Linked DNA regions of Homo sapiens: region 1 is linked to region 2. A link means that fine-mapping ties the variant in region 2 to the expression of a gene that starts in the linked region. Tissue or cell type: whole blood. Region 2 holds a variant in brackets; the other region holds the start of a gene. All regions are shown on one strand. Distances are from middle to middle.

Region 1 (7,370 bases), 78 kb after region 2:
CAAGAATCTGATTTTATCCCAAATATAATAAGCCCAAAGAAATACACACCAAGACACAGCATAGATAGCCTTCTGAGAAGTAAAGACAAAGAAAATATCGTAAAAATGGCCAGAGAGAAATAATTATCTATAAAGGAATACCAATTCTAATTGTAGTGAATTTCTTATCTGAAACAATTGAAGCCAGAAAAATGTGGCACAACATTGTTCAAATGCTGTAAAAGACAAACAACACAATTGAATAAATATTTTTCCAAGGGTATACAAATGAGCAAATTGTGCATGCTCAAGATGAAGATGCTCAATATCATTAGTCATTAGGTAACTACAATTCAAAACTTAAGTACATTCACTGGATGGCTGTAAACAGAAAGCCAATACAAGTATTGGAGAGATTGTAGAGAAATGAGAACTCATACATTGCTGGAGAGGGTGTAAAATTTGCAGCCACTTTGGAAAACTATTGGTAGTTCCTGAAAATGTTAAACATAGAGTTGCCATATGACCCAGTAGTTCTACTATTGGTTATGTACTCAAGAGAAATGAAAACGTATGTCCACACAAAAACTTGTACATGAATAGTCATAGTAACACTGCTTATAATAGTTGAACAGTGGAAACAAATAAAATATTTGTCAACTGATAAATGGTAAACATATATATCCATTCAGTGGAATATTATTCAGCCTTTAAAAGGAATGATGTATTAATACAACGTATAGCACAAGTACAGCTACAACATGGACAAACCTGGAAAACATGCCAAATGAAAGAATCCAGTCACAAGGAACACATATTGTTCAATTATGTTTTTATGACATATCCAGAATTGATAAAGGCATTTTTGATTGAAGATATTTTTGTCTAGAAAGACAAAAATATTAGTGGTTGCCTGGGACTGTAGGAATGGGGACTGTGGTAAGCTGATAAATGGTCTCTTAAAAGATATCTGTGTCCTAATCCCTGGAACCTGTGATTGTTACCCTTATATGGCAAAAAACAAAAAAAAAATGATCTTTGCTGATATGAGTGAGTTAAACATCTTGAGATGGTGAGATTATCCTGGATTACGTAGATGGGAACTAAATGCAATCACATGTATCCTTATGTAAGAGAGTCAGAGTGGGATTTGAACACAAAGAGGAGAAAGTGATGGGAAGATGGAGCAGAGGGAGACTGAAGATGCTGGCCTTGAAGATTGGAGTAAAACAGCCCCAAACCAAAGAATGCTGGCAGCTACCTGAAGCTGGAAAGGCAAGGAACAAATTTTTCCCTAGTGTCTCTGGAGAGACTGCAGCCCTGTCGACATCTTCATCTCAATACAGTGTGAACTGACTTCAGACTTCTGCCTTCAGAATGGCGAGACAATAACTTAATACTGTTTTAAGCCACCAAGTCTGCAGTAAACGGATCCAGGGAGTGCCTGCTAACGGGCATGGGGTTTCTTTGGGTGGGGAAATCCTGCAAAATTGGTGTTAGTTGTACAACTCAGTGAATATATTGAAAACCACTGAATTGTATGCTTTAGATGGGTCAGTTTTATATTATGTGAATTATAGCTCACAGAATTGTTGAAAAAAGTCATTGTGACCTTGGGTTAAGCAAAGATTTATTAGATATGACATAAAAATTGATTCATAAAAATTATATATTGGACTTCACCAGAATAAATCAACATAAAGTGCTTCACTTTTCCATTCTGGAAAGAGAGAAATGACAGGAAAAAACCCCACCAGATCAGTGTTTGTCTGGGACTGAAGGGATGACTAACAAGGAGCAGAGGAAAGCTTTTCGGGATGATGGCACTCTTCTCTGTCTCCATTACGGCATTGGATACAAGTCTCTAGAACTCCCAGAACTCGTCACTGAAAAGGGTGAATAGTACTGTATGTAAATTAGGCCTTAATTTTTAAATGGGAAAAATAAATATAAAGACAAAATACACTGCTGTATTAAATCAAATGATAGATGTAAAAGTCTAATGTATACGTATTTTTAATGATTTTGACCAATGCTTCCAAATTTCTCTTAAGAAAGATTGAATCCAGTGCATACTTCCTCGATCAGCGAATGAATGTTTGATTCTTTCTACCCTCATCAGCACAGTGATCCCAAGGGTCACACTTTAGACGATGATTGGCTCAGTGCTGGGCGCACTGTATCAGTTTCATAGAATCATGGATTCCAAGCGCATAAAGTCCCCACAAGAGATAAATCCCCCACTCCTGAAGCAACTTACTGTTCTGATGGGGGAAGGGATGGAGGAACTTACTGTGTGTGCTGGGGAGGGGAGATGGCCCCTGAACTCAGGGAGCTCAGGAAGTTCTGAGGACTGGGTGAGAAACATTGAAAAAGGAAGGGTGAATAAGGAAAACAAAACACGTCTGTGAGCTGAGAGGTCTCAAGTGACAATCGTGTCTCATTCCTACGCCCCCAGTGCCTACCTAGCCCCATGCATAGCAATGAGGTTGTGGGAATGAACAAATGAATGAATGAATTAATGAGTGAGTGAATGAGTTGAGAGACTACAAAAGCTTAGGGTCAGCCGAGATAGACTTCTTTGCTTGGAGCTTGGGGCTTCAAGGTCAATTTAAGATTGTGGCCATGCAAGCTTGAGGACTTTTTGCTCTGAGTCCTGTTAAAATTAATGAAAATGGAGACCAGGCCTGAAGAGTCCCTGAGCAAAAATTAAAAAAACAGTTAGGCCTCATAAGTGACCTCAACTTTGCTTGATTTGCAAATATCAGTGAAACTTAACACGAGCTATTTCTTGTAAATGTGTATATTAAGGAAAAATAGAACTTAAGCTCAACCAATCAAAAGAAACTTATATAATTAACTAGGGTCTTTCCAACAGGATAGGCCAAATAAGGGAACTATATAACTATAACTAATTAAATATTTTCTTCAGTTTACTTGTCCTGTAGGAGTCTTCCCCTTGCATTCCCCCAGTGGAGCTCCTCAACCTCTTCTGTTTGGAGCTGCCTGATTCATGAATTGTTGTTTGCTGAAATAATCTGTTTAAAATTTTATTGTGCCTCAGTTTACCTTTTGACAGTCCCATCTAAGGAGTAGAAACATGGCACTAGTGAGTAGGGGGAGCATACATAATCACGGGAGTCCAGCTGGGTCCCCACACACTGAAGGAGCAGATGACACAGGTACCGGACATCAAAAATTGATGCTTCTGATTCTAGGCCTTGGGGTAAGTGAAGGGTGTGGTCTTGGGCCTAGTGCTGGGTCATTTCCACTGGAGCTGGTGGCTGTACAGGCGAGATAGCATTGAGCAGGAGGAAGTGGAGGGCACTTGCCTGCGTGCTGACGTAGGCTGGAGGCAGGGGAGGAAGGGGGTCTTGAGATGAGGTGGGTGAGGGGAAGTACTGCGGAGGCTGTAGGAAGCCTGCACGAGGGACTAGGAGTCTAGAGGGAGCTGATGGTGAGTAGAGTCGACAGGAGGAGAGGCAGGGAGAGGGACAGAGAGAGGAGACGTATGGATAGGGAAAAGGAGAGGCTGCTGGGGTGTGTGTGAGACTGTGTGCATGGGCGTGTGTGTGTGTGTGTGAAAGTGAATAAAAGACAAAGTGAGACTGTGAGTGTGAGTGCATGTGCATGCACACCTGTGTGTGAGAGTACAGGAACCCCTCCCTCAACCCAAAATTTATGCCCTGAGTCTTAACAATTTGCATTTTTCCCGCTTGACAAAAGTAAGATTTCAAGTGAGCCTGTAAGAGGTTATTTGCAACAGTGAACACAAGTGACTGTTCTGAGCAGCCAGGAGCCTGGGAGAGAGAGAGAGGAAGGAACAGAAAGAATCTGCAATGAATGAATGAATGAGAGTTTATAAGAACTTCCCTGTGAATGTATATATGTAAGAAACTAGGGTCTGAGATGCTCCATCTCAGCCTAAGAGCCCGCACCCCTGGGTCTCTGAGCCCAGAAGATTCCAGGAAGGTCTATACCTGACGTTCCAGAAGCCTCACCCCAGCCCCCTTGCTGGATCCTAGGGACCAGTTTCTGGGGGAGGTTGGGGAGGGCGGGGAGCCCTCTGACTGTGAGTCCTCCCGGCTTGGGGCCCCAGACTGGGTGGAGCAGCCACACCTGCCTGAAGTTCCGAGGAAAAGGGCGGAAACAGCTGCCAGCACCGCCCTCATAATAGGCTCAATGAATCCCTGCGGTTGGCTGGGGGCAGTGGGTCCCACACTGCCTCACTTCCCTAAATGGGCAGCTTCACTTTTAGAACCCCGGGTCCTTCCCTGGCAGGCCCAGGTGGCACATCCTGTGTCGGGTGGGCCCTCACCTTGGATCTCCAGGCCTGACACTGCCCAGCTGGATGGAACCATGGCCCCAGCCTTCCTGCTGCTGCTGCTGCTGTGGCCACAGGGTTGCGTCTCAGGTGAGGGGAGAAGGGGCTGACTTGTGGAGGAGGGAGTGGGTACAGAGGCAGGAGCTCAGGGCCTTTTTCTTACCCTCCTTACCAGCAGTTTTCTTGTTTAGTGTTTTGTGGGTTGGGGAAGGAGGAGATTAGGGCTGACTTAGCTCTTTACCCTAATATCAGGCCCCAGGCGAAGCTAACCCAGGCCTCCCAAGCCAAGATAAAGCTCTGGACCCTCTCTGCATTGGCTCCTTTATCTGCTAGGCTTCCTCAGGCTTTAAAGCAGAGCCCTCAATTTCCTCACACAAATAGCTTTCTCTGCTTGGCCTCTGTCAGGAAGCCCTGCTTAGTTATGACAGCAATCATTGCATCATGTGTGTTTTGAACTGAATTTGAACATTTTTCTTGAAATGCTGATGCCACATCCTGTCCCTGCCTCTGTCCTGAAGGGACCAGTGTGTGAATGCCTTTCCCACCTCACAGATACCAATGCTCCTTGAGGAACCTCACCCATTCCTGCCCCTCTCGCTGCCATGGCAACCAAGTTACCACTTCCTGTTCAGTTCTGGGCATGGTGGGGGTTGGCAAAACTCACCACTGCCTGTGAGAGGGGTGGGAGGTGTAGGCACACATGAAGACATTGCCCTGGAGACCCATCCCAAGGTCACCCAACTCTGCACCTCCCAGAGGGTAGAGAAACAGCTTCCCACTGCCAGGGCAGAAAGGGGTCTCTCTTGTGCTAAGAAATCCTGGGCTCATCCACCAAATAATGAAGTTGGATCATTCTGTTTAGTTTGCAAGGGACAGAGGGATGCTTAGAGAGGGTGCTGCTTCACACAGAGCCTCAGCTCTAGTGGCTGCTGGCTGGGACTTGGGACGGATATCCTGGATTCTGGTGGGACAGATGTCCTGGATTCTGGGCCCTTGACTGTCACAGCTCTGGGTTCCATTGGGGGAACTGGGAGGCCCCAGCATGTGGGAAAAGGAAGCATGAGTTGAGCATGCACTGTGTGCAAAGCACTGACCTGGGGCAGAATTCTCACAGCAACCTGTGAGGGGTGTGGTGCTATTCTCACTTGACTGATAAAGAAACAGAGATATTTCTGTATCAGTCAAGTGTCTGTTTTGATATTTCTGTATCAAACAGGTGACCTAATCACACCACTAAGTGGTAGAAACAGGGTTTCAACCCTTGTTTATTTTGACTCCAAAATGTGTGCTCTCTGTTCTCTACTATGGGGGAGAGTCTTTTTATATGTGGTTTTTTTGGAAGACTCTGGGGTGAAATTATCAGAAGAGTCAGCTGAGCTTAAGGCAGGCAGAGGGGTGGAGGGAGCCCAAGGCAGCTTTCTCCCTCTCTCTGTCCCCTGAGTCACCCTGCACACCCCAGTTCTGCTCTGTCTCTACCAGACTGTGGATTATGAAGGCTTGGACCACATCTTACTCCTCAGCATAGAGAGAAAGATATTGCAGGTGGAAAGTGAATAATTGTAGAATCCTGTGGTTCACACTCCATTGGGAGTTTGTTTACATGTATATTTAGACAGGCTTGATCTATGGGTTTTATGTAACTAGAATATTTTAAAACTAAACACCAGATGGAATGAACTAAGGAGAGTTATTATTTAAAGAGGACTAAGTGAACCTATTTGTGAAATAAATAACTGTTAATCATATTTTCAAATACTAGATTTTCTTATCTACCTAGTTAGTTGGGCACTGAAATTTCACAACTTAATGACCTGTGTTTGTGTCTCTGCATCTGTCTCACTGAGGGCATGACCTGGGTTTTTCCCACAAGAATTCCCTGGGATGCCGGGCACAGTGGCTCACGCCTGCAATCCCAGCACTTTGGGAGGCCGAGGCAGGTGGATCACGAAGTCAAGAGATTGAGACCATCCTGGCTAACATGGTGAAATCCCGTCTCTACTAAAAATACAAAAAATTAGCCGGACGTGGTGGCAGGCACCTGTAGTCCCAGCTACTCAGGAGGCTGAGGCAGGAGAATAGTTTGAACCCAGGAGGCGGAGGTTACAGTGAGCTGAGATCGTGCCACTGCACTCCAGCCTGGGCAACAGAGCGAGACTCCGTCTCAAAAACAAAACAAAACAAAACAAAACAAAACAAAAATGAATTCCCTGGGAATCCCTGAAGACAGAGCTTGTCACTTTCCCATCAGACTAGAAAATACCATGAGGAAAGGGGCTGTGTCTGATGGAGCTCCGAGTGTAAATGCTGCGTTTCCTCCATTAGACTGGGGACTCACTGAGGGATATACCTGCCTCCTCCATCAGACTGAAAGCTCCCTGAGAGCGGGGGTTGTGTCTCCACTGTAATACTGGAAGCTAGCTGTTTTCAGGGCCCATTCACCTCCCTTCAGATTGGGGCAAGCTCCCTGAAGGCGGGGCTGTATTTCCCCCTCAATCTGTGGGTTCTGTGACAGCAGGACAATATCCACTCTACCCTTCACCATGATCTTCAACTTTCATGATGTCTTCTTCCTCTCCTCTTGCCAGACCTTATTCAATAAGTATTGTCTCCACAGGCCCCTCTGCTGACAGTGTATACACAAAAGTGAGGCTCCTTGAAGGGGAGACTCTGTCTGTGCAGTGCTCCTATAAGGGCTACAAAAACCGCGTGGAGGGCAAGGTTTGGTGCAAAATCAGGAAGAAGAAGTGTGAGCCTGGCTTTGCCCGAGTCTGGGTGAAAGGGCCCCGCTACTTGCTGCAGGACGATGCCCAGGCCAAGGTGGTCAACATCACCATGGTGGCCCTCAAGCTCCAGGACTCAGGCCGATACTGGTGCATGCGCAACACCTCTGGGATCCTGTACCCCTTGATGGGCTTCCAGCTGGATGTGTCTCCAGGTGAGCAGGCTGCAGTGGCTCTGGGACGGGTGGAGGGAGTCCCTCCTGCCCCACACTCCACTAACATCAGAGATAATAAGGATAATAATCCATCAGTGGTCATGTTGCACTGTAGTGTTTTCAGAGTGCCTT
Region 2 (8,170 bases):
ATGGGGTACTTTGTGTATGTGTGTGTGTGTGTGTGTGTTTTTTTTTTTAACAGAGTCTTGCCCTGTGGCCCAGGCTGGAGTGCAGTGTTGTGATCTTGGCTCACTGTAACCTCCACCTCCCGGGTTCAAGTGATTCTCCCACCTCAGCCTCCCATGTATCTGGGACTACAGGTGTGCACCACCATGCCTGGCTAATTTTTTTGTATTTTTAGTAGAGGCAAGGTTTCACCATGTTGGCCAGGCTGGTCTCGAACTCCCGACCTCAGGTGATCTGACCTCCTCATCCTCCCAAAGTGTGGGATTACATGCGTGAGCCACTGTGCCTGGCCCCGAGATGGGGTACTTGGATTGGCAAATCCTGTGTCCTGTGCCCATCCTTGAGAATGTGGGCTGCCCCAACAGTAGAGCCACACAGGATCGTTCCCTTGGAAAGGGGTGCTCTGCTACCCAAGGAAGGGAAAAAGGAGTGCCAGGCAGTCAGATATCCATGCCCATCATGCCCTCCAGACGGCTTCCTCACTGTTTGTCCAAAGGTCTTTTGAGCTGATCTCCTTGCCCTGACTTAGATGAAGTTCCTCAAGGTGTCCTTGGAGCCACTCTCTGCTAGCACCGTGTCTTTGCGTTCACTTTTTATGTCATACGCCCTTGTAATCGATCCCTCCCACCATGCTGCAGCCACTCGTGGTCTTAGTACAATATCCCATGTTCTGTCTCCAGGCAGGCAGTTTCTTCCTCTCAAAGTCAGTCTTCCTCTTCTGATCATTTATGAAATTTGATCCTCATGCACCATATGCAGTCTCTTATAGTAAAAAACCTACTCACAGTGGAAAGATCTGAGGTCTAGTGCTGGCTTGCAGGGCAAGTTGTATTTTCTCTGGAGGCCTCAAGAACCTCATCTGAAATATGGGTGGTTGGACAAGAAAAACAGGGGGCTCCTCTCCTTTTTCCCCACTCAGAGAGAGAAAAATAATTCCTCACAGAACCCATTCTCTTTCCCTGCTTATAGAACTCCGAGCTGCAACTAAATTAACTGAGGAAAAGTATGAACTGAAAGAGGGGCAGACCCTGGATGTGAAATGTGACTACACGCTAGAGAAGTTTGCCAGCAGCCAGAAAGCTTGGCAGATAATAAGGGACGGAGAGATGCCCAAGACCCTGGCATGCACAGAGAGGCCTTCAAAGAATTCCCATCCAGTCCAAGTGGGGAGGATCATACTAGAAGACTACCATGATCATGGTTTACTGCGCGTCCGAATGGTCAACCTTCAAGTGGAAGATTCTGGACTGTATCAGTGTGTGATCTACCAGCCTCCCAAGGAGCCTCACATGCTGTTCGATCGCATCCGCTTGGTGGTGACCAAGGGTGAGTGGCCTGGGACTTGGGGGGAAAGAAGGGCCAGGTGAGGAAAGGGGCAGTGGTGGTAGCATCAGCAGAGCTGGGGTTCAGGATTCCCAGCAGTCTGTCTTCCTCCCAGGACCTCTTTATCTCTCATCTAAGGTCCAGTAGTAAGTAGAACCTTCCATGCATGAGATTCTCCTTGGATAGCACAGCCTAATTTTGGGTGCTGTGGTAGGAATTGGGGTACAATTAAGGTGAGTGGTAGATTTGGGATAATTTAGTCCCATTCTTTGTTCTCCACTTAGAAGTCATGTCCTGACTCCCCCTCCCAAGGATGCGTTTGGTGGCATGCCTGTGTGCTTCTGAAGCAGCCCCTCTCACATCTTTCTGTGGGCACAGACCACCTGGGGATCTTATTTCAAATGCACACTCCAACTGAATGGGTACAGGGGTCTGCATCTCTATTGATCTCCCAGGTGATGCCAATGCTGATGGTCCATGGCTCCCATTTTGGGGGAGCAAGTCTCCAGAGCTCATTTTGTGTCCCCTTGTACACAACTCTACTCACTGGATAGGAGAGGGGGGTTTACTTATCTGTACCCTATTCATTTCAGAACTGCTTGAGGGAAGCACCTGTGCCTTCCTGGGCTCTGCACCCCTAGCAAATAATGTAGTTTCTGACACAAAGTAGGCCCTCAGGAGATGTTGCATTAAGGAATGAATTATGGAAGACAGAGGAAAGGGAAGCAGGCTCAAGTTCCCAGCACCTGGGGAATTCTAAGCCTGAGGAAGACAAGGTGCACACACAATATATTAATAAAAGATAACTTTTAAAGCAATATGCCATAAGCCAGGTGAACGAAAGGCAGAGTGAATCAAGTAAGCCTGGAATTATTCTTGGAGAAGGTTGGGGCACAAGAATTGGTGAAGAACAGAAGGCAAGTTCATTTCCAACAGTACGAATGACAAAAAATTCCTTTCTTCTTCTCTCTTTCTGCTCTCCCTCACTTCCTGCCCTTTTTTTCTTCTTTCCTTTTTTCGATTTCTGACTCAGGTTGACTCCACAGTATTTCTTTGGCTTTAGCAAAGGAAAACTTTGCATTTGGGCCATGCTCATTTCCCTCCTCAGCTTCATTTACCGTACCACCTACCCGTCCATCAACTCATCCACATTTTCATCCATACATCCATACATCCATTCACCCACCCATCCACCCATTCATCATCCATCTGTCCATCCATCCATCCAATGTGTCTTCTTGCAGGTTTTTCAGGGACCCCTGGCTCCAATGAGAATTCTACCCAGAATGTGTATAAGATTCCTCCTACCACCACTAAGGCCTTGTGCCCACTCTATACCAGCCCCAGAACTGTGACCCAAGCTCCACCCAAGTCAACTGCCGATGTCTCCACTCCTGACTCTGAAATCAACCTTACAAATGTGACAGATATCATCAGGTATAGTTTCCAGGTCCCTGGGCCCCTGGTTTGGACACTGAGCCCTTTGTTTCCCAGTCTGTGTGCTGAGAGGATGTGAAAGTGAGGGAAAGGGGAGGGTGGGGCAGGAGAAGACTTGAGTCACATTAGTCTGGGTAGAAATGTCCAGGGGAAGAAGGAAGTGGTGATGGAGAATAGGGGAGGCTCTCAGCCAGGCTGTCCTTCTCCCCAGTTCACCTTCTTTGTTTCCTTGCAACCTGAGTATTAAAGAGAGGGAAATGGCATCTTCCCCAAGTTCCAGTGGAGCTCATCCAACCCCAGGGGCCTGATGGGCAGTGGGAAAGCACTCTGAGTGAGGGGCCCTGGATCTAGTGTTGGCCTGACTAACTGAATGTGACTTTGGGTGAGTCAGGAACCCTCTCTGGCTTTAGCTTCTTTGACAATTCAGTAGGCATGGTAGAAACCCAAAGCTGGAAGACATTGTCCACCTAATAACTCTCAGCAGGAGCTGGAGCTGGGGCTAAATGCAGTATTGGTTTTTGCCTTATTGTTTTTTAAATAACATTGTTGCATGTGCCCAATTATAGATAAATAGAATCAGAATTTTTGCAGATGAGGTCCCTCTCAGTATTTTTAATAAGATGTTTAGGAGATTTCTAATGTGTAGGCAAACTTAAGAACCACTAACTTAGCAATTTCACACCTCTTTACAGTTATTAAATGTTGATTTATATTAGAATGTGTTTATCATTAAATACTGAATTATCAGGATGGAAATACTTTTCCACATCACCACTAGTCTAACATGTCTTTTTTCTCATATTCTCTTCTAGTCTTTATTCATGTTTATACATATTTTAATATGGCAGTAAGTCTAATTATACATGTTTTTATTCTTTTCCTTGCTGAAATTATTCTTTGATGCTGCTACCTAAATTTCATAAATATAATTTCA[A/G]TGAGTGCATATTTTTCTATCAATTGGGAAAGCCATAACTTACATAACCATTGGCCTGTTCTTAGACATTGATATAGTGTTGATAACTCTGAGATAAACATATTCTTGCAGATATATTTTTCTTCTTTTAAATAATTAACTCGAAATTTCCATGAGATAATTTAAACACTGATATCATTTTGTATACAAATAGCATCTACCAATGGTCTTCCAAAAGATTGGAAACAATTTGCAGTGTGATCCATTAAGCATAAATAAAGCAGTGTCATGGCAGGCTTACAGACACGGATTTAGTCTTTTAAATCATTAAATAGTGTGAGTTAAATCACATTCCTGCTAAAACAAATGTGAACTGGTGCCTGCTCTAATTTCTCTATGAGTGTAGACTCCACCTCCATATGGGTAGTGGCAGTGCCTTTTTCCCCATTATGTTGTTTGGGGAACAAAGTGCTCATTAAACTTCTGTGGAATAAATCAAACGAATGATCTACTAAGAGTCAATTTTTTTTTTTCCTCTACTTTCATTTTGCAATACATAAGTTAAGAGAACATAATCTTTGCCCATATTCTTACTTTTACCGGAAGGAGGGCCTTAAGTGTAAGCTGTCCAGGTTCTGGGCCTTTTAATCAAAGTATTGGAGAAGACGCACAAAGTAACAAAGGAATGAAGCAGTGAAAGCAGGAATTTATTTAAGCGAGAAAGCGCTCCCCAGGGTAGAAGTGGCCCCACGCAAGTGGCTCAAGGGCCAAGTTACAAAGTTTTCTGGGTTTTAAGTACTCCACGTGAAGTTCCTCCCAGTTACCCCTTATCTGGATGAAGCATTTGGTTTGTGGCTAACTAAAGGCTAAGGTGAATTGGCGCCCTCTGTGGGTAAAGGGATGGTCGTCTCTGCTTGGCTCAGGGCCAATCTAAGACACTCTCCCTTTCCAGCTGAGACGTGGTGGAAGGGGGAGGGCTGTAGGGAGAGTAGCCTTTGATTCTTTGCTGCTGGGGCATGGGGAGATGGGGTTTTTCCTTTTGTTTTAGCTTTAGAAAGTTTATGTTAATTGGCCTTAGGTTCCCTGACCCCAGCCCCAGGAGTTTTCCTTTTGATCCAGCTATGGGAAGTCAGCACGAATCCATCCTAGATTTCTTGCCCCTAGACCTTGGTGTTGCTCCATGATTCAGCATGAATTGGTCTTACGTTCCTGCCTCCAGACCCTATTCTCCTGCCTTGCTGCTAGAGACTGCATCTCTCTTTTATCTGTTAACTTTATCTATCATCTAATATGAACTATCCTTTCAGCCAAAATCCAGTCTGGAAAGTGGAATCCACACTAGCTGTTTGAAAAGAAGAAGCTTTTTTTCTTTTTCTTTTCTTTTTTTTTTTGAGACACGGTCTCACTCTGTCAATCAGGCTGGAGTGGAGTGGCACGATCATGGCTCACTGTAGCCTCAACCTCCTCCCACCTTTGCCTCCCAAGTAGCTGGGACCACAGGTGCATACCACCAGGACAGCTAATACTTTTTATTATTTTTGTAGAGATGGGGGTCTCCCTGTGTTGCCCAGGCTGATCTCGAATTCTTGGGATCAAGTGATCCTCCCACCTCGGCCTCCCAAAGTGCTGGGATTACAAGTGTGAGCCACCACATCCAGCCATGAAACGAAGGAATTTAATGCAGGGAATTGTTTGCCCAGGTGATGGAAGAGCTGAGACGCTATCCTGGGGATGGAGAGGCACTGCAGAGGTAGCCACTATCACCCTATCTCTAGGTAGTTTCCCCAGAAGCAAGCTGTAAAGTCTTGTTAAAATGTTTTAGGACTAGGTGTTGTGGCTCACACATATAATCCCAGCACTTTGGCAGGCTGAGGTGGGAGAATCACTTGAGCCCAGGAATTTGAGATTAGCTTGGGCAACATAGCAAGACTCCGTCTTTACAAAAAAATAATAAAAAAATTAGCAGGGCATGGTGGCATGCACCCATGGTCCCAGCTACTCGGGAGGCTGAGGCAGGAGGATCACTTGAGCCTGGGAGATCAAGGCTTCAGTGAGCTGTGATCAAGCCACTGTACTCCAGCCTGGGCAACAGAGCAAGATCCTGCTCTCTTTCTCTCTAAAAAAAAAAAAAAAAAAAAAAGACAAAAAGAAAAATGTTTTAGGAAGTGATTTCTGGCAAAGCCATTGAGGAAGTGGGACCAGGAAGGGAAGGAAGCCAAGCAAGCGTGTCATAACCAAGGGGTATCTCACAGGATAACTCTGGCTCAGTCTTGTTAAGGAGCTCTGGGGACTCCTGGGTCACATTTGGAGTTGTCCCTATAAGGGGCAGTAACTGAGCAAGGGCAGCTCTAACCAAGGCCAAGCACATGAATTCCTGGCCCTTCAGGGGGTTGGTAGCTTGTGTGCAGCCTCGAAAAAAATGCAGATGGTGGCCTGTTGGGAGTGGACATGCCCCAGGAGTTCAGCATAGGAAAATGGTAAAGCACTCAGAGTGGATAATGCAGAGCACTGGCAGGAGAGACTTGGGGAGGAGGTGCAGTGAGCAGAGCCCGGAAGCCAGGACATTCAGGTTGCAGCACTGGAATCGGGGCAGATGCTGAGGATGCTGAGTGCGCCACCATGTGAGGGGTGAGAGAGATGCTGGCTCCCTGCCCCTTGCTGCCTGTCTCTCTGCCCCATCCCTGCCCCCGTCTCTGCCCCCTGTCCCCCACCAGTTGCTGAACTCGACCAGTCAGGCTTGGGAATGTAGTCCCCTGTGCTACAAGTCAGGGCCCTTGAATGGGGGTGGATTTCAGGCAAATAGGCAGTTTTCTGCTTTCTAGCTCCTTTACGCCGTTTCCCTCTTTGCTAGTTTGTGCATGTGGTTTTAAGTTTTGTATAGGTGGGTGTGTTGATTTTAAATCAATTGCTTTGCTTTATTCCTTAATGTGTTTGATTCTATTTCCTGGTGACTTTTCTTGGATTGTTTTTTTTTTATTTTATTTAAATGTTTAGTCCGGGGGAAGATTTATTCTGCTACATGCTATAAACTGTAGAAAAGCCTACACCGTTACCATGTTGCTGTCCAGATACTGCAAGACTATTTACTAAATGATCCTCCTGCCTCTCCAAGTAGCTGGGACCATGGGTGCATGCTACCACGTCCGGCTTATCCACTGGACCTCTGATTTCCTTAGACATTATGTTCCTGCATAGCACTGGCTCTGCATCTGGCCTTTGTGTTCCATTGCCATCTGTCTGTCCCTGTGTCTTACCATGCCACATCCTTGTGCTCTCATCTGCTTGCATGTCTGCTGATGGAACTGGCCAAGTGCCCTCACTCCTTTGCATCTTTTTATTATGATACCTATTGATGTTTACCCAGAAACCTTAGAATCATTTCGCCAAAATCTATAAAATTCATGATGAGATTTTCACTACGGGTGGATTCTTCTCGGTTTATAGGTGAGGAAACCGAGCTAAAGAGGTGAGATGACCATCCCAGTAGGCAGGGTACGGTACTGAGAATAGAGAGCGGGTTTCCTGGCCAGAGTCCTCTCTCCCTACCACATCACAGGGAGGAGGATGGGCTGATCAGCCCGACTGTCTCCCTCCAGTGCCTCTCCTGGACAGGGACCTATACTCTCCACTGAATTGTTTCTAATCAGTAGTTTTTGGCAATGAGACAGACTGAAAAGCACAGGGTCAGGCAGTGCGGGAAAGGTGGAGCAAGGATCTAAGCAGAGGAGAGTGGGACATGAAGGCATTTTCTAGAGGGAACATGTGCGTGTGGGAGAGACTTTGCCAGCAGTAGCGTTCAGCCTCTTGTCTCCCGCAGGGTTCCGGTGTTCAACATTGTCATTCTCCTGGCTGGTGGATTCCTGAGTAAGAGCCTGGTCTTCTCTGTCCTGTTTGCTGTCACGCTGAGGTCATTTGTACCCTAGGCCCACGAACCCACGAGAATGTCCTCTGACTTCCAGCCACATCCATCTGGCAGTTGTGCCAAGGGAGGAGGGAGGAGGTAAAAGGCAGGGAGTTAATAACATGAATTAAATCTGTAATCACCGGCTATTTCTAAAGTCAGCGTCTCACCTTCCTGCCCACTGCCCTCGTTCCTCTAATAATCTTGGGTGGGCATTTGTGCCTCAGAAAAGAAGTTACAGCCCCAAACATGCTTGGTCCTTCATTCCACCAGCCACTTGGGGTTGGCATGAAATACAGACAGCTCAATGCTTTTCACCGTAATTCTCTTGTGGGGGCTGTGACATGCAGAAGGCACACCTGATACTTCTCCTGCTCAGTTTTGCCCTGGACCATACAATTTTGGCCTGACCTGGACAGAGCTCCCACTACAGAAGCATCCTGCTCGCCCCATGCTGGGACTTCCTCTTTCTAGCATCAGACACTTGGGTTTCATGCTTATGTGTGGTTCTTTCCAACACTCCCAGAAAAGGGTGTTGAAGATTGTGGAACCTGGAGAA

Evidence for each region. PIP is the estimated chance that this variant, and not a neighbour inherited with it, causes the effect.
Region 1: it holds the start of TREML2, and the variant in region 2 is fine-mapped to the expression of TREML2 in whole blood (TOPMed, PIP above 0.99).

The regions. Positions count from the first base shown.
Region 1 is chr6:41,197,977-41,205,346 of GRCh38, reverse strand. It overlaps TREML2 (triggering receptor expressed on myeloid cells like 2), which reads left to right and starts at 4,198. Exons shown (of 5, transcript NM_024807.4): 1 at 4,198-4,393; 2 at 6,918-7,238. The coding sequence starts at 4,339. RefSeq lists an enhancer at 3,910-3,979.
Region 2 is chr6:41,275,588-41,283,757 of GRCh38, reverse strand. TREM1 (triggering receptor expressed on myeloid cells 1) reads left to right here. Exons shown (of 4, transcript NM_018643.5): 2 at 1,007-1,363; 3 at 2,605-2,797; 4 at 7,528-8,170. The coding sequence ends at 7,633. Among named protein-coding and RNA genes, the nearest start is that of TREM1, 7.0 kb to the left of the region's middle. The variant A/G (reference allele first, on the strand shown) is at 3,732.